Linked DNA regions of Homo sapiens. The protein of the gene in region 2 binds, or shares a complex with, the protein of the main gene of each other region. Links are inferred from orthologs where the notes say so. Each region holds a gene or a part of one and is shown on either strand. Other genes may lie near its edges. The genes, in order: PSTPIP1, PTPN22 and CSK.

Evidence for each region.
Region 1: the proteins of PTPN22 (region 2) and PSTPIP1 are in contact, whole or in part, in a crystal structure (PDB 7AAM), measured with the Homo sapiens proteins. Residues at the interface, in NP_057051.4 of Homo sapiens: Ser793, Lys794, Pro795, Gly797, Pro798, Arg799, Asn800, Pro801, Pro802, Trp805, Asn806; in NP_003969.2 of Homo sapiens: Thr225, Arg228, Asn229, Trp232, Asn236, Ser239, Met240, Cys242, Val243, Asp246.
Region 3: the proteins of PTPN22 (region 2) and CSK are in contact, whole or in part, in an NMR structure (PDB 1JEG), measured with the Mus musculus proteins. The link is inferred for Homo sapiens from one-to-one orthologs. Residues at the interface, in NP_033005.1 of Mus musculus: Pro614, Pro615, Leu616, Pro617, Glu618, Arg619, Thr620, Glu622, Ser623, Phe624, Ile625, Val626, Val627; in NP_001291690.1 of Mus musculus: Phe20, Thr23, Gln26, Ala40, Val41, Thr42, Lys43, Asp44, Asn46, Trp47, Ile59, Pro61, Asn63, Tyr64.

What each region holds. Positions count from the first base shown.
Region 1 is NC_000015.10:76,990,595-76,998,207, reverse strand, and holds the start of PSTPIP1 (proline-serine-threonine phosphatase-interacting protein 1), read right to left. Parts: upstream 3,083-7,613; 5' UTR 2,804-3,082; coding exon of another isoform or gene 2,635-2,803; coding exon 2,599-2,634; intron 1-2,598. UniProt on the Homo sapiens protein: Involved in regulation of the actin cytoskeleton. May regulate WAS actin-bundling activity. Bridges the interaction between ABL1 and PTPN18 leading to ABL1 dephosphorylation.
Region 2 is NC_000001.11:113,868,614-113,876,577, forward strand, and holds the start of PTPN22 (tyrosine-protein phosphatase non-receptor type 22), read right to left. Parts: upstream 3,100-7,964; 5' UTR 3,011-3,099; coding exon 2,924-3,010; intron 1-2,923. UniProt on the Homo sapiens protein: Acts as a negative regulator of T-cell receptor (TCR) signaling by direct dephosphorylation of the Src family kinases LCK and FYN, ITAMs of the TCRz/CD3 complex, as well as ZAP70, VAV, VCP and other key signaling molecules.
Region 3 is NC_000015.10:74,785,037-74,792,135, reverse strand, and holds part of CSK (tyrosine-protein kinase CSK), read right to left. Parts: intron 3,593-7,099; exon of another isoform or gene 3,559-3,592; intron 3,465-3,558; exon of another isoform or gene 3,379-3,464; intron 1,320-3,378; exon of another isoform or gene 1,190-1,319; intron 1-1,189. UniProt on the Homo sapiens protein: Non-receptor tyrosine-protein kinase that plays an important role in the regulation of cell growth, differentiation, migration and immune response.

The DNA.
Region 1 (7,613 bases), on a different chromosome or scaffold from region 2:
AGAGTACAGTGGCACAATCTCAGCTCACTGCAACCTCTGCCTCTTGGGTTCAAGCTGTTCTCCTGCCTCAGCCTCCCAAGTAGCTGGGATTACAGGAGCATGCCATCACGCCTGGCTAATTTTTGTATTTTTAGTAGAGACAGGGTTTCACCATGTTGGCCAGGCTGGTCTTGAACTCCTGACCTCAAGTGATCCATCCACCTTGGCCTCCCAGAGTGCTGGGATTACAGGCGTGAACCACTGCACCCCGCCTAAAAACCAGTCATTTCTAAACAGTGTGCTGGCAGGCTGAAGGGTTTAATGACAGTGCCTTGGGCTGGGGTGGGGGAAGGCCCAGACATGGGCCAAGCTGGCTGGGCTGTTCCTAATATAACACCTGTGGCCAGAGTAGTGTGCCTTTTCTGTTTTACAGATTTGTCTACAAATGAAGCTTCAGAATATTGTTCTAGCCACCTTGTCTGATTTTCTTACCCCTCTGGGAGATAAGAGGGGTTACCTCTTATCTTACCCCGAAGCCAAAAGATCCAGTGATATGTCAGATAGACAGAGGGATCCTGCAACAACACAAGTGCTAAAGCCAGCCTGCCAGGGGTTTAATCCCAGCAGTGTGACCTTGCGCAAGTCTCTTAATATCTCCGTGCCTCAATTTCCTCATCTGAATAAGAGAGATAACAGTAGCATGTGTTTGAAGGATTGAATGAGTGAATATGCATACATCTTGAGAACAGCGCCTGGCACATCTTTCGTGCTCAGCAAATGTTAGTTGTTATGCACTGGGATGGGCTGAGCATCAGGAAGAGGTATTAGAATCCAGAGCCCTGGGGCAGGTGATGCCTACAGTGACCTTTCGGGGCATCGGCCCAGACTCAGTGTGAGAGGTTCCCACTGGCTACTTCTCTCCCCTTCCTGCTCTGGCCTTCCCTAGGGAAACTATATGCCCGCCCCAGGCTCAGGGAGCCAGACACAGAGGAGACAAGGCACTTGGAGGCCAGGAAGCCCAGAGGTGCGACGAGCACAGAGTGTGGGCAGGATGCCGCTCAGGAAGCTCCACAGGGGCTGGCTGCTTGCTTCTGCTGCGGCTGCCATACCCTGCTCCCTTATACGCCACCCCTACCTGTGCCCAGATCCTGCCATGGAGGCTGCTCCTTGCCCAGCTCTGCCCTAGGGAAGGCAGGCCCAGGGGCTCTAGGACTGGACAGAGGTCTCAGTGATAAAATAGTCAAGGGGTCCTGGCCTGCCCTGGGCTACAGAGTGGCCTGGGTTTCCAGGCCCTACCCCTTCCCCCAACTTTGCACACCAAGGCAGGGCAGCTAGGTGGTGACTCACATCCCCCATCCCCCAGGGCTCCAGCTGCCAGCCTGGGCCCTGAGCATCCTGGTGCCTGGTCCTCCGGATGGGCTGAGGCAGCTCTGCCTCCATTGGCTTCTCTGGGCTGGGCCCACCCTGTCTTTGTAGAGATGGGGAAACTGAGGCCCAGAAAGGCACAAGGTGCCCTCCCCACGTGGGGTCCTTTGCCTACTGTACAGTCAGAGCAGAGGAAGCAGAACACTCACACGCTGGCCACAGGCCCCAAGTGGAGCCGGCCGGAAGGGAAGGAAGGCCTGGCTCCATAGCTCTCATCCTCCTGGCTGCAGCCCCAGGAAAAGGCCCGGGGAGGGCAGGGCTGTTGGCTGGGGCTCAGCCGGCTGAGCCGAGGGCCAGAGCGTCCTCTTCGGGGTTGGAGGCAGCACCCCGGGACAGCCACATTCCCCAGCTCCAACCAGAGAGGTCTCAGTTTTTCCCCAGAGCCCTGGGCACAGCCAGAGCTGAGGGGCAGAGGGGTAGTTGAAGGACAGCTGGAAAAGTGCTGAGATGACCAGGGGTCCAAGCTGGGCTGCAGGCTACGTGGCCCGGGCCAAGCCACTTTACCTCTACCACTGGCTGGGCGCCCTTATTTCATGGGGGAAATGACTTGATTTAAGCCCGTGTTGAATTTAAGAAAGTAAGCAAGCCATTGCCCACCTGGCTGCCTCCTTGAAGGACCCCTAAGGTCTGCAAGGGACAAGGGGCTGGGTGAGGGGAACAGAATTACCATTTGGAGTGAGGCAAGGTGCTGGGGGCTTTAGTGCCTTGGATCCCCTTGCTGATCCAATGCTTTAGTTGGTGTGTTGATTTCTATTTTATCACCATTATATAGATGGAGAGACTGAGGCTTGGAGACAGAAATGACTTGCCCAGCCTGTAACAGAGCCAAGACCTGAACTCAAGTTTGTCTGGTCTCTAAATCTGTGACCCCTCCTTTGCTGCCCCACACATCCTCCTCAAGCCCCCACCCATGTGTTACCCTCTTCTGAGGAGCTCCTGCTGTGGGGAGAGGTCTCCCAGAGGAGAAAACACACGGGGCAGCAGAGAGGAGGACGCTCATTCACGGAGTCCACTTGCGTTCCAGTCCAGAAGGGGTGGGGGCCTGGGCCACCTCCATGACAATTAAGACCAAGAATCAACCACTATTTTATGAGAAAGCTCCCCTCTCGGAGCCGCATCCCATCACCTGCATGGAGATTTCAGCCTAGCTCTGCCCCCTCCACTTGTTCAGTGCCCCCAACCATCCTCACTCACCCAAAAGGCATCTTTGAACTGCAGCTGGGGCATCATCCTCAGGCGTCTGCCGCGGCAAAGCTCACTCTCCTGCCACAGGCTGGCCTGATGGAGGGCCAGGCGCCAGCAGCAGCGTCCCAGTCCTGGCAGGGCTGGCCCAGGCCCCCCTTCCCGGCCGGCGCCGTCTGCAACACTCAGAAGGCAGCCACGAGCCAGAGAGGAGCTTCTGAGGGGAGGAAAAAGCTCAACCTGTTTTGTTTGGGGCTAGAATCAGCAGCAAAATGAGGAAGGAGTGGAGCTCAGTGATGGGAGGGCGGGCCCTGGTGTCCAGCCCAGCCCCTCACCGACCCTGCGGTGATGGAGGACACAGTCTGGGACCCAGGGCAGGGAGCAGGGATGCCAGCCCTGGGTGGGAGGCAGTGGCCAGTGGAAGAGGCAGGCTGGAGCTCGGGCCGGGCCAGGCAGGCAGGCAGGCAGGCAGCCCGAGGCCTGCGCAGGAAGGTTTGTGCAACCTCCCCCGGGGCAGGCACAGGGCCCTCGCCCACAGGAAGTGGAGTTGCTGTGCTCCCCTGTGCAGCCCCGCCTGCCACCTGCCATCCTGCTCCTGCCTCTGCTTGCCCCCTCCCGAGGTGCGGGCTCACTTTATTCCAGAGGCCATATGCTAAGGGAGCTTGAGGCCCACTGACAGTGTGGCCAGGAGGGGCCCAGGAACCCCAGGTGTGTCACCCGCCAGCCAGTCCAGCACCCTTCCAGGCTGGGCCCAGAGATGCCAGACTCCCCACCCCGCACTAGCAAGTCATTCTGGAGGGGCTTACCCAGGTCTAGGGCATCTGTCATTCATCAAACCCTGGCTGCTCTGGGACCCAAACCAGGTCCTGCCCTCAAGGAGCCCATAGTCTGGGAGCAGACACAGCTGTGCTCTGGGGGGCTGTGAGCACACAGAGGCAAGGTGAGCAGGCAGCAAGATGAGGGAGAACAGCCTGAGGCCCCGGCACTGCCCCCACCACCACCACCGCCACCACCGCAAGTCTCCAGATTAGACGCTGTTTGGGGCAGAGAACCCCCTTCTGAAGATGGAGGCTTCCGGCTCAGTGAATGGGAATGGATGGAGAGAGAAACAGGATTATCAAGGCACAGAGTGGGGTGTTTGGAAACCCAGTCTGAGGCCCAGTTTTTGTTTAATTTTGACCCCACCTTTCAGGGGCTGAGGGACCTTAATAGACCCCCCAACTCGCTGAGCCTCAGCTTCCTCATCTGCCACACCCAGTCTTTGGAAAGTAGACGGTGTCGAGAATATTTCTGGAATTTCCAGTTTGGTGGGCAGGTGCTGGGGGCACTGTGTGGTACCACCTTAGGAAGAGCCCTGGACTAGAGCCCCAGCCCCAGCCCTGAGACGCCACGCCCTGCCGGCTCAGCAGAAGATGCAGCAGGAAGTCCTGAGCCCAGGGCAGGCTGGCAAAATGGGGTGAGTCAGGGATTGTCCGCAAATCACCACCCTCACTGATGTCTGCCTTACAGCTGACGGGGTGATAAGATGAGAGCTGCTGCAGATGAAATAGTTGAGCTCCCAAGTGCCCATTATGCATGCCCAGGGTTTAGAGAGAGGGGGCACACCCAGGCTCTGAAATAGCCACCCAAGAGGAAACACTTTGGGGAGGATTGCAGAGCAATGGGACTGCCCCCAGAAGGCCCTCACCTCCAGAAACCTTGGATTTGAGCTAATCTTTAATCTGTAAGGCGCCCCAGTCAGGTTTTTTGTTACTTGCAGCTGAAGACAATTAATAGTGTAAAAATCCCCTTGAACTTTGTAGGCCATAGAGTGAGCCAGGCTGCACCTCACCTCCCAATGGCACCACCACCTCTGATAGCACTGGCTCAGCCTCCCTGAGCTCAGTTTCTCCATCCATCAGATGGGATGATGCCTCTAGGTCTGGAGCAGACTAGAGACCCTCTGTTAACAGAAGGCTCCTGCCTGCTTATTGGCAGAAATTTTTACAGCTGGGCTCCCTGCCCTGCCTCTCTAGGTGTCCTTCCCATCACCTCCCAGAGACTTCTGCTCCAGCCAGGCCTCTTCCCTCTCCCTGGAGGCACCTTTCCCACTCCCACCTGCTCTGTTCCCAGCCTCCCTTCTGGCAAGCCTTCCTTGATCTTCCTTACCTGGGCAAATCCTCCCACCCTCAAAGCCAACCTCAAGGCTCCCACACATGAGGCCTTCCTTTCCCAACTGTACCTGTCCAGCCAGGGCAGCCCCGGATGGAGGGCCATGCTGGTGACGGGCTGGAGCAACTGGGGAAGGAAGTAATGTGAGGAACCTCTGGAGAGACTCTGCAATTCTCTACTAGAGAGGCCTTCCTCCTCCCCTCCCTTCCACCCTTACCTGTTGCAGGTCCCCAGGCTGGGCGACCAGACAGCCAATTCGGCTTTGGAGTACTTACCCAGCACCGGGTACATCATTCTGCTTTTCACACGGACCACCTCAGTTACACTGTCATTATCCCCACTTTACAGAGGGGCAAACTAGTGATTAAAGAGTGTAAGTAACGCACCCAAGTAGCAGGCAATAAGCAGAAGGCTGGGCTTTGGTCCTAGATCTGTCCGAAGCCAAAGCACACGCTCTTAACTTCCACAGTTGTCTTTTACTAACAGCCCTCTATTCAAAAAGCGTTTCATTGTTCCTTTCTCCAGTTCTACCTCGAGACCCTCTCACCCAAGTCAATAAAAGGAAAAACAATCTAGGGAAGCCACCGGGGCTGATGGTGCCATAGGAATGAGAGGCCAGCCTTTAGCACATGCTATTCTGCATCACTGTGTTATTCGCATCAGTTGAGGATGCTTTTGGCTGCAAAGAACATAAACCAGAGGGTCTGACACAGAGGACGTGTGCTGTCATCTACACAACGGGGCTGGAGGCAGGGCAGCCTCCAGCTGTGGTACATGAGGGCTTCAGCTCAGTCTCTCTGAGTTTCTCTTGCATTTACGATCTTCCTCCTTGGGCTGGAGGCCAAGGAGCTGCAGCAGCTCATCTACAACTCCAGACACAGCCACAAGCAGAGAAAGAAAAGGACACCTGCCCTTGTGTCTCATTTTCTCCAAAGCCCCTGCACCCTCCCTTCTGCCCAGCTCCCCAGGAGACCTTCCCTTGTGTCTCCTTGGCCCTAGGTGGGTCACGTGCTCATACTTCCCCATGGTTGGCCTTGCGAATGGGCAGCCGGGGATGCCGAAAGCCAACCACGTGACCACCACAACCTTCTCCTCAGCCCAGGCACACAAGCACTGCTGAGCACCAACTCCTGCAGGGTCCTGCTGGGACCGGGGCCTCAAGGGGAGGCAGACTTGGTTTTTGCTCTGAGGGGCCTAGAGACTGACAGACAGGTTCTAGGGAGTTCTTTCTCCATAAGGAGTGGCTCAGAGCGGGTGAGACCAGAAGAAGATATTGTGATGACTTTTACAGGAATGAGGTCTGGTTGGGGCAGGTGCGATGGGGCTTGAGTGGATTGGTGGGATGTCAGGGAGATGGAGGAGCAAGACTGAGATGTCTGAGTGCCCCTCAGAAAAGAGTACTGTCTTAGGGGGCCCCTATTCACACCAGCCCCACCCACACCCAGGCCCAGGCCCTTGGGGAGAGGAATCCATCCCTGAAAATCACCGCTTTTTAGTGACTGTTCCAGCTGCTTCAAAACAATTTGCCTTGAGGTCTGTGCAGTTGTGCCTCAGGCCAGGCTGTGGGGGCATACCCCTCCCAGGCAGAGCCCCTGCCTGTTTTGCCTGGTATCTGAACACATCTGCTTGAAGAATTCAAGAAGCAGTAGCTACAAGGATTGAGAATAAAATGCAAAATCAGTTTTTATAACATTTATTGTCACAGCCCCCACCACTGACTGGCAGGACTCCGCTCCTGAAGACACTTCATCCATCCCTCTGAGCCACAGAAACAACAAAACCAGTAACAACAGCTGCCACAGAAGGAGGATCAATATTTACAGGACCTCCATCACTTTCACAAGCTTGATCTCACTGATTGCTCACTGCCTGGACAGCTACATAATTTGCGAGTCCAGTGCAAAATAAAAATGTGAGACCTCTTACTCAAAAAGCAGGGACAAAATTGCCGTTAAAGGTACTAATCTATAAAACTTGTTTCTTTACTGCAGTCTCTCTCTCAACCTGGAATGGTGTTTTTGATTTGTTATTTAACGTTACACTCCCTTGGGCATGGGAATATCTGTGGGACAACTTGCCCCGCCCCACCCTCTGACTTGACTCAGTTCTGTGTGAAATTCACCAGTTGCTGGACTTCTCCTCCTGTCAGCCACCACGCTGATCTGCATTCTGCGTTCCCCAGCGGAGGTTGGGGAAGTCAAGCCAGGCATTGCCATTTCCCATGGACCTGCCTCACCAACCCACAGCGGACAGGCAGTCCCCAGGGGTGTTGCAAAATCCAGGCCAGGATGCACTAGGAACCAGGGTCAGAAGTGAGTGAGAGGCTCAGCCCCCTGAGTCGCCTGTTGAATTTGCCATGGTGTTGCCAGCCTGGGGCAGGGGCCACATTGCCATGGCCAATCCTCAGATGCTACCAGGTGTGCCCTTGACCCGGACTGTCCCCATGCCTGCACTCAGGTCTCTGCTGGGGGCAGAGTGTGGCAGTGGTTGCTAGGCAGAAGTGGAGAAGACTGAGAACAAGTCCAGGGGAGGCAGTTGGAAGCAGGACCACAGGAGCCAAGGCTCCAAGTCCTTGATGTATGCTTCATTGTCCCACCAGACTGTACTTAAGAAAAGCAAATTCAAAAATAATGTGATTAAGAATTCCAAGACAGCAATCTCAGAGCATTAGACCCCAAGTACAATTTGCTTACACGAGTTGTACATCTATGAAACCAACCCTGCTCACTCCTGTCTGCTCTCTACACAGCAGAGTGACATTTTCAGATCCACATTTGGTCATATCAACGTCCCACTGTCACCTTGCCATGATTTTCCATTACTCTCAGGACAATGGCCATTGCCCTTACATGGCCTACAGACCCTGCATAATTTGG
Region 2 (7,964 bases):
ACACTTAATCACTACCCAAAAACAAGGTCCTTAAAATCAGGAGCTAGAAAAGCAAGGAAGTGATTAATATAAAAGTCAGGATAGTGATTATCCCTTGGCCAGGGTAGGACAGGACAGGGGCAGATGGGTGTAGGGGACCTGATGGGGCATGGGTCTTCGGGGGTCTGACAGTTTCTTGACTTGGGTAGTGGTTGCACTGCTAATGGTTGCTTTATAATTATACTTAAATGTTTTATGTACTTTTCTAAATGTGTATTATATTGCACAATATTAAGCAGCTAAAAAAAACTATAACAAGTTTTTAAGCAGGGAAAAAATGACCAGATTTGGCTGGGCGTGGTGGCTCATGCCTATAATCCTAGTACTTTGGGAGGCTGAGGCGAGTGGATTACCTGGTTGGACAGACCAGCCTGGCCAACATGGTGGAACCTTGTCTCTACTAAAAATACAAAATTAGCCAGGCGTGGTGGCTCATGCCTGTAATCCCAGCTACTTGGGAGGCTGAGGCAGGAAAATCGCTTGAACCAGGGAGGTGGAGGCTGCAGTGAGCCGAGATGGTGTCATTGCATTCCAGCCTGGGTGACAAGAGCAAAACTTTGTCGCCCCCAAAAAAAAGACCAGATTTGTATGATTAAAAGATCACTTGGGTGTTGAACTGAAAATTGACTGAAGGTGGGGCAAGGCTAGAGGCAGAGAAGCCAGTTAGGAGGTAGCTGCTATATTTTGGTGAGAAATTATAATGACTTTAGCTGAGAAAAGGTAAAATATTAGGGATATAGTCTACATTTTTTTTTTTTTGAGACAGAAGTTCGCTCTTGTTGTCCAGGCTGGAGTGCAACAGCTCTATCTCAGTTCACTGCAACCTCTGCCTCCCGAGTTTAAGCGATTCTCCTGTGTCAACCTCTTGAGTAGCTAGGATTACAGGTGCCTGCCACCACGCCCAGCTAATTTTTGTATTTTTAGTAGAAATGGGGTTTCATTATGTTGGCCAGGATGGTCTCAAACTCCTGACCTCAGGTGATCCACCCGCCTCGGCCTCCCAAAGTGCTGGGTTTACAGGTGTGAGCCACTGCCCCCGGCCAGTCTACATTATTTTAAAAAACACAACCAAAATAAAACAGAGGCCGGCACTGCCCCTCAGCTCACTTTTTACATCTATGCCTTGGGTTACCTTGGCTTAGGAATTATAGTCCAGGGGCAGGGACATGTATACACATGTGCTAGAACTTCCTACTTATCTCCTTTCAGGTAACTCTACCAGAGGGGCTCAGACTGATCAGCCAGTGGCAGTGAGAGCACATTTTTCATAGTACCACAAGATTATCCATGTTGAGCTGACATCGGAGTTCCTATCATAATATCTAATCACTCAATAATATCTAATTACTCAAGACTTTCAGAGTGTTTTCACATCTGCTATCCGGTACCAGAGTGTTAGCTCCAGGAGGCAAAGGTTTTGGTTCTTTTTGTTCACCGCTGTATTTTTAGTGCTTAGAACTGAACTTGGTACATACTAAGTGCTCAATAAATGGTACTCAATAAATGACCACATTTAATGATTGTTATTGATATTTAATCATCACAACAATCCTGTGAGGATAGGTAGGACATGTATTATTATCCCCATTTTATAAGTTAGAAAACAGAGAGATTTAAGAACATGTCAAATACTTCATAATTTGGTGAAAAAAAATCATGATTTAATTTCAGGTTTGTACTTCAGTTCCCCTCTTTCCACCCATTTCTTCACAACTGAAGAGCTAAGGTTTAAAATTCTTATATCTCTGAAACGCCAGCTGTAAGCATTCTAAAATACATGATAGGTACTATTAGACACCCTATGTTATCTGATATCTCAGCTTGTAGGGTGAATGAGGCCTACCCAGCTGCCATTGCATCAATAATCACAGTTCTCTCAAAGGAGATTCACTGTTCTTCTGGGTAATCTAATCCACCCAACCTGAAGCTACCTTGTACTCATGTTTCTCTCCTTGACCTACACTTGTCTCTACTCTCCATCCTAGCCATTCCACTTCTCCAAGCAAAAGAAGTTAAGGAAGCCCTGTTATTGAAAAAACACATGTTATAATATATTTTTCATATGAAAAAGAAAAGAAAAATGATGGCCAGACATAGTGGTTCATGCCTGTAATCCCAGCACTTTGGGAGGCAAGATGGGAGGATTGCTTGAAGCCAGGAGTTCGAGACAAGCCTGGGCAAAAAAGCAAGGCTCGTATCTACAAAAAAGAAAAAAACAATTTTTTTTTAAATTAGCCAGGCATGGCGATACACACCTGTGGCCCCAGCTACTCAGGAGGCTGAGGCAAGAGAATCACTTGAGGCCAGGAGTTCAAGGCTACAGTGAGCTGTGGTTGCACTGCTGCACTCCAGCCTGGGTGACAGAGTAAGATTCTGAATCTTAAAAAAACAAACAACAACAACAAAAAAAACTGTGGCAGTGGGTAGTTTTGGTGCTCTTCAAAAACCTTTGTCAACCAAATAGAATCCCAGAGGGGAGGCTAAAAATGTAATATTGCATGAAAAGTTAACATTGGTCTCTTTCTTCTTAATATTAATTAAAATTAGTAATATAAAGCATAAACCACAACTTAGATACCTGGGGAAATCTGGATGTTCAATTAATATTAGTGTTTTTACATCTGGAGTTGTATATGTCTTCTGTAGGATTCCTAACCAAACTCCAAAGAACTAGCAAACAAAATATTAAAACCAGTAATTTTGAGAGAATACCTGAAATACATGCAAACCACTCAGAGAAGTCAAACTTTTTTTTTTCTGTCTTCCCCGCCAAGGTCTCATATTTACTTTATCCCAAGAGCAATTTGGTCTCGGAAAATTGGACCCCCATAGTCAGTTAAATAGTGTATGTAACTACCCTGAGAGGGTCACATACAGGACTCACCAGAAATTCATTGGCAAACTCCTCTTTAGTAATTTTCTTGCTTTGGGCCTCATCCAGGAACTTCTGCAGAATTTCTCTTTGGTCCATGCTGCAGAGCAAGAAAAATAGTCTATAAGTAGGTTGAGGGAGGGCATGTCAAATGTGTGTCATGGCCGAGACACCTCCAAAAAGCCACTGCTGCCGCCTGAGCAGAGCATGCTGAAGGCTGTGGTTTACTGACTTCATCACAAGCCCTAGAGGAAATTAGTACGTAACCACCTTCTGTGGTCACATAACACAGCCATCATCTCACTCCAGGGCCCTAGTGCCTTCCTTCTCAGCAAAGGAACCTGGTTACAATTCAAATTTTTAACAAACAAGAGGCTAACTAGAACGTAAAGTGTGGTCTGCTTAACTGAGATTATTCCATTCCATCACCCATATGCAAAACTCACCTTTCTTCTTGCCTCCCAGAGAAAGAACAGAATTACAGGTCTCCTGAATGAGTTCTGTCTCTCCCCATTTTCCCAGTGAGCACAAGGGCCAAGTTGACACCTTCTGTTTCCTTATGTCCCAAATGAACTCTGCAAAGTTCAGTTAGGCCCAGGAAAGAAGACAGACACTGTTTAGAGTGAGTGACATGTCTTCTACCCGGACTGTTCATCGAAAGGTTTCTTGTCAGTGTGATCAATGAGAAACTTCTGTTCATCACAGAAGGTATTTTTATTCATAACTTTTAAGTCTGCTATATATACCTCAAACTCCCTTTTGAATGAAGCAAAGTCAGATGCTTCTGACAGTCTGTGTCTCTCCCAGGACTGGGGAAGTGCTGACCTCCATTAAGGGAAGTGTTGATTTCAGCACCTCTTCAACCCTCCCAGTAACCTTTGAAGCTTCACTTGGGTTCTGGATATAAAGACTAAGAGTGTTGGTCTATATAGGATCTAGAGCAAGTGGCCCCCACAAGGAGCACCTGACCAGACAGTTAGCTCAATACCCTGCATATGTAATGCTGGTAAACTGTGATGGAACAAAAAGAAAGTAAAATCAACCACCTTGCTGACAACATTGTAACTTTTAGGGCAGAAAGCCTGAAGAACTGTTTCTAAAGAACACATTTCTACTCTGCAACCAATGTCTTAGGAAATAAATTTGTTTCAGGAAGTTATGCTGTGCCTGTGGCATTTTGGCCCTGAAAGGCAGGCTCTTCTAGAAAAACTTTCCACATTTGAGCTTGCATAACCTCTCAATGGGTACAAGTCTACCCAAGTGCCTAATTCAGTGTGAGAACATCCAAAAATCAGTATATCATCTTTATTGAAGGCAGAAGTTCAACAAATGTTAACAAAATTAGTCTTGATCCTGAAGAAAACTGGGAAATGTGTTGTTAGGACTTCCTCTATTTAAGATATTAGCAATCCTTTCTGTTTTGCAACATTATTCAAACTTCCTTCAGGATATCATGATTCTGAACACTGCTTAATCTGAACATTAAAGATACTGCATGCTCTTTACTAAGTACTGCAAAAAAAAAAGAAAGATCATCGAGATATCTTGGTTATAGACAACTTAAAGACAATATTTCAAATTAAGAAACTCAATCCCAGTATACATAAATTAAAATAAACCCTCATTCTTCAGCAATATTTGTTAGGAATAGTATATTTCTTAAATTATCCCCATCTAGAATTAAGAGAGAATTTCTTGCTGCTCTAAGTAACGTGATGTTTACTTTGGCTATTTTAAAACATAAAATATGGGAAATCTTTGATTTATAAAAATACAAAATTTCAAGTTTGTAATAACTAAAACCATGTAAAAGTGTGTACATAGTTAAAGACTAAAAGAAGCAAAAAAGAATCAATTGTGTAAGTTTGCTTTCTAAAATTATCATAATTTTAGAATTATGATAAAGTTTGCTTTCTAAAATTATCATACCGTTTTTAAAATTAGAAATAAACATTTAAAAATCCATTAAGTTGTTCAACAAATTTATTGAGTACCCACTAAATTCTAAACATTGTCTTAGGAGATTGGCATACAACACTGAGAAAGCCAGAATATGGTAAAAACAAAACAAAACAAAACAAAAACATCCTTAGCCAGTTAATAAAGCAACTCAGAACTAAAGATACAGACATGATTACTGATAAAAATTAAAACACTCCTTAGGTAACTTTGGGAAAGAAAATAAAAATAAAAACATTCCAAACTAACTTGCTTAATTGCAGAGTAGCAAAGCATAATCCTAAAAGGAAAATGATTTTCTATGTTTGGACAAAGAAGATAATATAGTTTTATAATTTCTCTGTACCCTTAGAATGTCCTCAATTACACAAAACTAGAACTTTATTAATTTTTATTAATTGATGAGGCAAACCTGCCTAATAAAATTTAAATCTATTTTTCTCAAGCCTATATTTCAGCACAATCTCTTACTAACTTTCTTGTTTCTTCTTAATGAGGGAGAAGACAGAAATAAATAGGAGATAACAAAAAAAATTTTGCTTAGATGCCTCCATAGTCCCTTTCCTCAAAATCTAAGAATCTGTAAATAGTGTCTTGGCAGAACTTCACACTTTTTTAAAAAAGCAAGCAGCAATCTATTCTACTGTAAACCCAAAAGGTATAGAGACATTGTGAAATAACCAAACCCCCAAAACCCACTTAGCTACAAGGCCATTTCCTGAGCAGACCACTCAAGCAAGCAAAAAACAAACTGAAGAAGAAAACAAAAAACTTTAATTATTTTTTTTGTTTTGGGTTTTTTTGTTTGTTTGTTTGTTTTGTTTTGAGACAGGGTCTTGCTATGTTACCCAGACTAGTCTGGAACTCCTGGGCTCAAGTGATCCTTCCACTTCAGACTTCCAAGTAGCTGGAGCTATTATTTTTTTTTTAAAAAAATAAGCTACTACTTAATTTATCACACTTCCTTCTACAGAGCACAATGCTTTTTGATGAAGATTGTGTTGACTCATTTGTATCTTGCGGGAAGATAAAGAGCTGGGGAGGGGAAACAAGACATGCAGTAAAGGTTGGCAAATACCTAAAAGAGTTTCAGAATTTATGATGAATCATTTAAACCAGTCTGGCATAAAACCTAAGTGAACACAATTCCATGCAATAAAAAAAGACTCACAAACATTTTGCCAGAACCATCAAGTAAATTGTGGGAAGTAAATTGTGGATAAGCACCTGAAGAGGAGTGACAAGGCCACATCTCACTGCTGCCTCATGTGGCTGTAGTGCTTGGTCAGAAGGAAGAACACAACAGAGAAGAGTGCTGGTCACCATGTCACCTGTTCCAAGAAGAGGGGAGTATGCTAGTTTAAGGGGAAATATCAGTATCACAGAGGTCAGGAATTAGATTACAATAAACATTAATTGAGGAGAATTTCAGGGAAGACTACAAGGGTAAGATAAACTATTCAATAGGAAAAACATTCAGGATTCTCAGAACATCCTTCTGTCTTTTAGATGAGGGGGAGACATGTTTTACCCTGGAGAAGATACTTACCCAACCTTAGCTTTAGTTTCACTACTCTTGCCTTTCCCTACATTCCAGGGTCATTGATTTGATATGGGATATATATACTGTCTGTGAAACATTCAGTCCTTTGTAAGCATTCTTTTGATCACCAAGGCCTATTGGAAATTTCTCCTCAATGTCTTTTAGATTCAACCTGTCTTTTCCATTCCCACTTAGCCCCATTCCCACTTTCACACCCGGATTCCTATAGCAATAAACTTAGAGTATCTTCCTATCTATATGTTTCCATTCTAGTATCTCCTGTTAACCAAGGCTGGATGAAAGTTCTTAAAACTGCACTTTAATGCTAAAGAATCAGAATAGTTATTGATGATCTACGGGAACAAGTCCAGATTCCTTAGCTTGTCACCAAGCCCCTCCCTGTCAACTATCCCCACCCAACCTATCCAAGCACATCACCTACAGACCTCGTTCGTTCTACTACCACTTTTTTCTACTTCTCACCTTTACCCCTAAGTTTCACCACAATGAAAATAAAACCATAAAGCTCAATTTTTCTTCAAAAATCTTGCCCCTAACTCTGTTTCGCCATGATCTTCCCTTAGTCTGAATCTCTTCAATATAAATCTGTATATTCAGCTATAGAAGTTTTCATTTATTCAATTTCCTTGTCTCCTATAAGTTTATTTAAGAGTTTATTCAAAAGATGTCCCCTGTATTTTCAGATTTATCAAAGGCAATGATAGTGTATTCTATGCGTTTGTATAACCCACAGTGCTTAACATGGTCTTGAGTATACCTAAAAATAAGTCTGTTGTGATAAAGTAGCTAATGTGGTTACGCTTTGGTGAGGGATCTACTCTCACTTGGTTACTCATTATATCAATTACTCCAAGTCTCTTGTCTGGCACAGTCTGTGCTTCTTGTCTCTAGCTAGGCACTTTCATTATGCCAGGAGCAGATGGGCCTTCCTACATGGAGGCACAGGAACCTGGCAAAGGGTACTTTCCTGAATGCTGCTGCCCAAGCAGCAGGGCTATTATTATGAAAGGAATGGTGTCAATACTGAGCTTCAGAGTCCATCTCTGAAGAACTGCAATGGCCAGAAATAAATGACCTCCTTTATCTCTAGAGTAGGCTTGTTTTTCCTTTTATAAATGAACACAGAAGAGGCTTATAAAATACCTTTAACGAAGCTTGTTTGATTTTCTCATGTTTTCACATCATCCCGGGTAGGAAAAGTCCCCCTACCCATCTTTCAATCTACTGCTTGTCACTACAGCATTCTGAGACTTCACTAAGTCCTTCAGTTCACCTGCTGCAGACTTCATAGTCAACCTCCCACTACACAGGGAAGCATACTCTGCCTTTGGTTTCAAAATCCTCAAGAAGCAAAGGTCAACCAATAACTTGCAATTGAAGTTTTTTTTTTTTTTTTGGAGACAGAGTTTTGCTGTTGTCACCCAGGCTGGTGTGCAATGGTGCTATCTCGGCTCACTGCAACCTCCGCCTCCTGGGTTCAAGCAATTCTTCTGCGTCAGCCTCCTGAGTGGCTGGGATGACAGGCATGTG
Region 3 (7,099 bases), on a different chromosome or scaffold from region 2:
AGATGTCCCTGAAAGGGGACAGCATAGCTCTAGCTGTGATGGGGCCAGGGGAGATCTCTAGATGCCGATACTGAACACTCCCCATGATAGAGTATGGAAAATGGCAAAACACCAGCTCAAGTCATTGAAGAAAAAGTTGCCAGGGGAGCAGAACAGACACAGCTTCCAAGTCCCATCCCACAGGCTAATTGGAAACAGGAAGGAGCACCTGCACTACAGGGAGACGTGCGGACAACCCCGGAACCAAGTGATCCAGTGAAGCATCACCAGCAAGGTGACGCATGGACACTAAGTGCCTCCTGGAGGAGGACTCTGCATTGCCCGGGGGGGCGTTCCTGCCAGAGCTGTTCCACCTGACTCCAACCAGGGAGAAGCAATCAGACAAATCCAGAACAACTGGCCCGGACTCTTCATGTCAATGTCATAAAAGAGCAAAACAAAAAAAGGGCTGGAGAATGTTCTAGATTGAACAGGACACTAGAGAAACATGACAAGATTCAATAAATGATCTTGAATTGAATTCTATATCAAGGGGTGGTCGGGGGGACAGCTATAAAAATCACTTGGGGAGAGGGGAAATGGACATAGTAGATAATATGGAATTAATGTCAATTTTCTTAAGTGTGATCATGACATTGTGATTATATAAGAGATACACGCTAAAGTTCTTAGGGTGAAAGATGCAATGCCTACAACTAACACTCAAATCAGCAAAAAATACATACACACATATGTCTATGTAGATAAAAGAAGAGATAGAGTAAATGTGGCAAAATGTTAAGAACTGGCAAATCTGCATGAAGGATATATGAATATTCATTATACTATTACTTCAACTTTTTGGTAGGTTTCAAATACTCAAAATAAAAGGCTGTGAAAAAAAAAGCCAGGTGCAGGTTCTCTATGGAATACTACAAGTTGTGTTTTTAAAGAGGTATTAATGCAACACCTCCCTAAACTCAAATATGCCTCGATTATCTTTGGAAAGACAGAGGAAACTGGTAACAGAGGTTGCCTCTAGGATGAGAAGGGAAAGTGAGATCAAGTTCAAGAGAAACTTACTTTTTACTGTTCATTTGCTATTTTGTCCTTTTGGGCTTTTAAAAAAATTATTATTATTTTTTTAAAGCCACATGCATCTATTACCTTCCCCCTTAAAACTGGAAATAAGAAACTTTTTGTAAATCACCTCTCTCTGGAGAATTCCTTGGGTCCCCAGCTGTGTTGGCTGCCGAGGCCTCCAAGGCCTCTCACACATCCCCGTGCTCCAGTGAGAACCTCACTGGTTGTGGCCTGTGGTTTAGGGTGGACTGGGAGCTCTGCAGGGGGAAAGTGAGGGTCTGACTCACGTCTGCATGGGCTGGGCCCAAAGCGGCTGCTCAGTAAATGAGTGCTGAATGAATGAATGAATGAACGAATGAAAAAAAGGGGACGCCAGGCTGGCTGTACCACACCGAGGTCTCATAACCAATAGGACTATAGTTAACCCCAAAGGGACAGCAGCTGTCACCCCATTCCCGCAGGGCTAGGGGACAAGGGGCTTGGGATGTGGCAGGACCAGTGCTTCACTCTGACTTCCTGCCCTAAACCCGGCTCCCAGCAGCCCTTGTGCTGGGGTCCCGGGAACAGGCTGGCATTGTGCCCAAGCGCTGAGGTCAGTGGCTGCAGCCTCAGGCAGCCTTTCTTGTGAGCCCAGGCTGACAAGGAGTGGGGAGAAAGAACTGGGAGCCCAGAAACTCCCAGGCTGCCCTTTTCCTACCCTGGAAGCAGCTGTAGACCCCCAAGGCCAGGCACGTGCTGAGGGCCAGGGGAGGTCAAGGGGCTCCCTTGCCCTTCCCCCTTGCCAAAACTCTGCTGCCTAATGGGGCGTGGGAGCCTTCAGTAACTGTTTACGCCCAGCTAAAAATACCCACTGAAAAGGGAAGTGCACAAAAGACCTGGGGGAACTCAGGGCCCTGGCCCCCGGAGATTCTGGTGCTGCCACAGGACCTAGCTGGATGCTCTGGGGGATGGGGACAGCCACTGGAGGCAAAACAGGCAACAGCAAGGTCCACCTTGCCTTCTCATTCTTTGAGCCAGTGTTTTAGAAGCCTTCCTGTGTGCCCAGAGCCATGCTTGGTAGGCCAGGATATCCGGGTGGAGAAGGAAAGGACTCAAGAGGTCCTGCCTTTGGGGACCCAAGGTCACCACTCACACACCTCTCCTCTGTGCACAAGCCAGGGCTGGATGCTGGGAACCACCACAAAATGCAGACCCGGCTCCTGTCCTCCTGGTTACTGGATGGTCAGCCATGGCCTGGTATGTTCAGTGCCTCAATAGATTGTGAGACAGGGGCCACCCGGGAAGGCTTCCAGGAAGATGGGTGAGGGGAGCAGGAGCTAGAAGGATTTTAGGGGAAAGTGACTGAGAGAGGGGCGCCTTGAAGTAAACCAGGATTAAGACTGCAAACTGTGGTACAGAGCGAGTTAATGAAGACTGAAGAAGGTTCAGGATGGGGGCCCAGGGAACCTCCGAGCAGGGCCTACAGGTCATAGTACAGATACAGGCAGAATTAAGTTTCAGATTTGGGCCCGCCCCTCCAAAGGGCAGTGCACCTGAGGAGGGCGGGGCACCCACCAGCAGTTGGGCAAGTTTGGCAGCAATAAAATCAGCTCCACCTCTGGTTCTGCAGAGGACACCAGGCTGAGGCACTGTGACATTCCCCACCACACATCAGGCAAGGAAGGGTGCCCGAGGGCTTCCACTGACCCCCGCAGCCTGCGCTGGTGGTCCCTCAGCACCCCCACTGCACAGGTGTCTCAGGGTGAGCAGCAGCAGAATTGGGCGCCAGGGTCTTGGAGATGCCTACACCTCCCGGGGCGGTTACGAAGGAACAGAAGAATGCCTGCTCTGGCTCCAGGGCACGCTGCCCTACCCCCATCCCGGGGCTCCCGTCAGCACCCTGACCTAAGGAGAAGGGCGGATTTAATGGATAAATACCAAATTATAGCAACACACTGGCTTTTTTTCCCCTGCCCCCAATGGTTCAGTGGGACCGGAAATCCCGTCTAGTGGTTTGGGAGAGGTGGGGGCTGGGGTTAGAGCAGGCTAATGGGGAGCCTACTCCCCAGGCACCGCTGCGGCTTGAGGCTGCCATTCCTGGCCCAGAAAGGTTTCTAATTACCGCTCAGGAGCCTAATTACCTATGTGCGCTGGGCAATGGGGACTCTGGGCCTCCCCAGGGCCCTAACCCAGGCCTCTGCTCCCCCACCCCCTTAGCACAGGATGTGGTCTTTGCATCTTCATTTGCCTGCATTTGCATATAGCCTCTCAGCACTAGCCTTCAATGGACCCTTCAAAGTCATGTTCTTGTCCCTCACCCGGAAGTCTCCTGGCCACATTCTAGGTGGGGAGACTGACGGCTGGAGGCCCATAAGCTGTCTAAAACTTCGGCCCCCAGATTTCTGGTCTCCCCACTTCAGAACCAGGATCTGCAGAACACACAGCTCAGAAGGTAAAGCTGTGGGGATCAACACAAAGGACAGACTTGCTACTACTTAAGGGAGATGGGGGTGTTACCAGTACACTCCTCCAGCAGGATGGGCTGCAGAATGAGAACACGGGAATTACAGCTGACTGACCCAACCGGGTTTGGGGCACTGCATTAGTTACTTAATCCTTCAAACACCCCATAGGGCAAGGACTGGTGATCTCTGACAGAGGAGGAACTAGCTGTGTGGGTACTTGAGCTCAGAGTTGTCTGAACCTTGGTTAGGGGACCTTTCTTCCCACCTTTCCTTGTGCAGGACAGACGACACCCTGAAAATGGACAGGTGGGGGGCACCGAGGGGAGGTCTGCCCAGAGCTTGGCTGTTCTGCTCTGGGAAGCAGAGGTACTTCTGTGCCCACTTCTTGCTTGTCTGCATACCCCAGCCTCTCAGAGAGGCCAAGAGCCTGTCGAGGGACACACAGAAAAGAGCCAGCAGCCCTAGAGAGGGCAGAAGCTTCAAACAAGGACCTCTCCTCCTACCACGCTTCTTCTTCAAACACTTCTCAACTTTCACAGGACCTTCCCCTCCAGGAGGCCCTCCAGGCTGCCCCAGCCCACGCAGAGCCCCAGCTTCAGAGCTCCTACCAGCTCTGCCAGGAAGTGAGAACCACAGGCCTCCCCTCACTGACTCCTCGTCTCCTCTACCCGCCAGCAGAGGCGCTCTCAGGGTTTGCTCTTCATCCTTCCCTCCTGTCTCCCTGCAGCACGGACAGCACAAGCTGCAGATAGATAGATGCGCGAGTCTGCATGAGGACCAGGTGTCAGGCTGGGCTGAGAAGCAGCAGCCAGGGTCCAAGGGGGGCAGATGATGCCCAGGTTTTCGCCTGCCCACGAGGCTTACAACCATGCCATGATCAGGACAGCCAGGGGGGCACCAAGCAGCCTCTCTTCTACTTGTTCCTTCGACTCTGGGCCCAGACCACAGAAGGAGGGGTGGAGGGAAGCTGCGGTTGGAGGGTGTGTGCACAGCTAGTGTGTGATGAGAAGCTGACTTCATCTTAGCACCTCAAAACCAGGAAGAGAAACTGAGCAGGCAGAAAGGGCAGGCTGGGCTGCACAGGGCCCTCCAGTCCCTGGGGGCCTGCTGAGGGGAGCTCTCAAATAGTCGCTTGACAAACCACTTCTCCTTTCTGGGCCTCAGTTTCCCCATGGGAAAAATGGGATTTTTTTTCTAATGGGTCCTGCCAGTCTGCCCTGAGTGGTGCCGTCTACACTTAATGGGCCACATCATGGCAGATAAAAGAGCACCCCCCCAACTGGTGGAGTACTTCTGATCCCGAGGAGCAGGGGCTCAGCCACCCAAAGCCAGCCTCTCCCTGCTCACTTCTCCCCTCAGCCATGCAGGGAGCACCAGCTCTTCCTTCACCAGCTCTTTATTTTTAGGTCTGAATTTGACTTTAATCATTACTTAGCGGATTCTATTTCCAGCCCTTGGATGAAGGGACCCAGAGGAGAGGGGGAAGGGAGGCAGTGCTCCCTGCCGGGCGTTGGGGGTGGCCTGCTCCTCCACCCATCCTGTCCCCAACCAAGGGCGGGGGAAACTGAGAAACACCCAAAGGGCTCTCATCTGAGCCAGGCCAGGCCAGCATCTTGGGGCGGACCCCACCCTGTGACCTCATCCCATCCCAAGCTGTGGGACAGGAGGGCAGTTGTCATGCCCACTTCCCTTACACTAAGACCAGGGAGGAGGAGATACTCCACAGGCCAAAGTTTGGCAGCTGGAGTCTGAAGTCGTGTGCCCAAGGGACCTCTGCACTGAATGGGCCACCTGGGGGAGGACCCCTTCCTTAGGTTAGTCCTGGGCCACCCTAGGGTCATCTGGGGCTACAGTCTCTTAGGCCCAGGGTTGCCAGGAGGAGACTGGTGTCCTGCTACTGCCCACGGGGTGGCTGTAGGAGGGCACTCCCAGTTACCCTGGTCTCCACAAAAGTAGAACAAGAGGAAGCAGGTGTGTCACAGTGATACACACTCAGGTTAGACCTGGGGAACACCTGCTGAGGAGGGGGAGGCTAACATGAGTTTCCCGATGTGTCCAACTCCCTCCTGGGAAGCTCTGGGAGGCTCCAGAATCCCCCTACCCTTAATCTCCCAGCTTCTTTCCCTTCCTTGGCTACTGGAACAGGGTGCGAAGATGAGGCTGGCATGGCTGTTCTTGGGCTGGGGCTCAGGATGCCTGGGTTCCTTGTCTAAGTCTCAGGCTAAGCAGGCCTCTATTTCCTCTGGGAAAATGCCAAGCTGGGCTGACCTAGCCAGAGCTGGGAGGCAGGAGGCAGCCAGGCTCTTACAGAAGAGGCGCAGTGGCTCACGCCTATAATCCCAGCACTTCAGGAGGCCGAGGTGGGTGGATCACCTGAGGTCAGGAGTTTGAGACCAGCCTGACCAACACGGAGAAACCCCATCGCTACTAAAAATACAAAATTAGCCAGGCGTGATGGCACATGCCTCTAATCCCAACTTGGAAGGCTGAGGCAGGAGAATCGCTTAAACCGGGAGCCGGAGGTTGTGGTGAGCCAAGATCGCGCCATTGCACTCCAGACTGGGCAACAAGAGCAAAACTCCATCTCACACACACACACACACACACACACACACAAAAAAAAAAAAGAGAGAGAGAGAGAGAGAAGAGGCCTTGTCTATTTAGCTCTGATGCTGGGAGACCGGAAGGGGAATGGGTGGAGTCAGGTCCCGGACCCTAACCAGCAGCCCATCTTCCCAGGGCCAGCCCCATGTCCTAGGCCAGCCAATCATATGGTAATGGGGAGAAGGGAAGGCAGGCAAGGGCACTGGCCATAGTATTCTAGAACCTCAGGGCCAGGGGGTTTCACAGGGGCTCCTCAGGCGGAGACCACCTCTTTGCCAGGTGAGTGGTCAGTCAACATTGGCCCGTGGCTCAGGCACCTTCCCCACAGGTTGAGGCAGCCAGCAGTGGGCACTCCTTCAACAATGCCAATCCTACTCACAGAGGGAGTGAAGAAAGGGCTGTGCCAGGCACTTTAGAGTCCCTTGGTTAGTTAGTTGACACTGTCCTTACACCTTCCTCTGAAGTAGGTGTTACCATCCTGTTATTTATATCAACGAGGCTCAGCAGGTCAGTGACCTGTCTAAGGTCCCTCTACCCTGGGCCTAAGTGGCATGTCTGGGCCTGGAACCCACATTCAGTTGGGTGCCAAGTTGCTTGTGCCCTCCAACACCCTGGCTGCTTTTGGGACTCATAGTAACGACAACCACAACAGCAACAGAGGGGAAAAATGCACACGCTCCAGTGTATGGGTGATGGCGCTGCAGCAGGCCAGCCTAGAATGTTCTGTAGCTTTTTAGAAGCAACGTTACTTAGACCGCGTAGCACCATGAGAAAATGCCCACAGACGCAGTATTAAATGAAAAAAGGTGTCACGGCACACACACTCCAGTGACAACGACAATGAAGGAAAAGGATGGGGAAAAGACTGGCAGTGAACTCCAAAATGCTAACACAGTCACTGCCTGCTGAAGAAATAGTGGGTGATTTTTGTTTCATTTTCTAAATTTCCTGTAGCGCTGTTTTGTTATTTTCTAAATCAAGAAAATGAG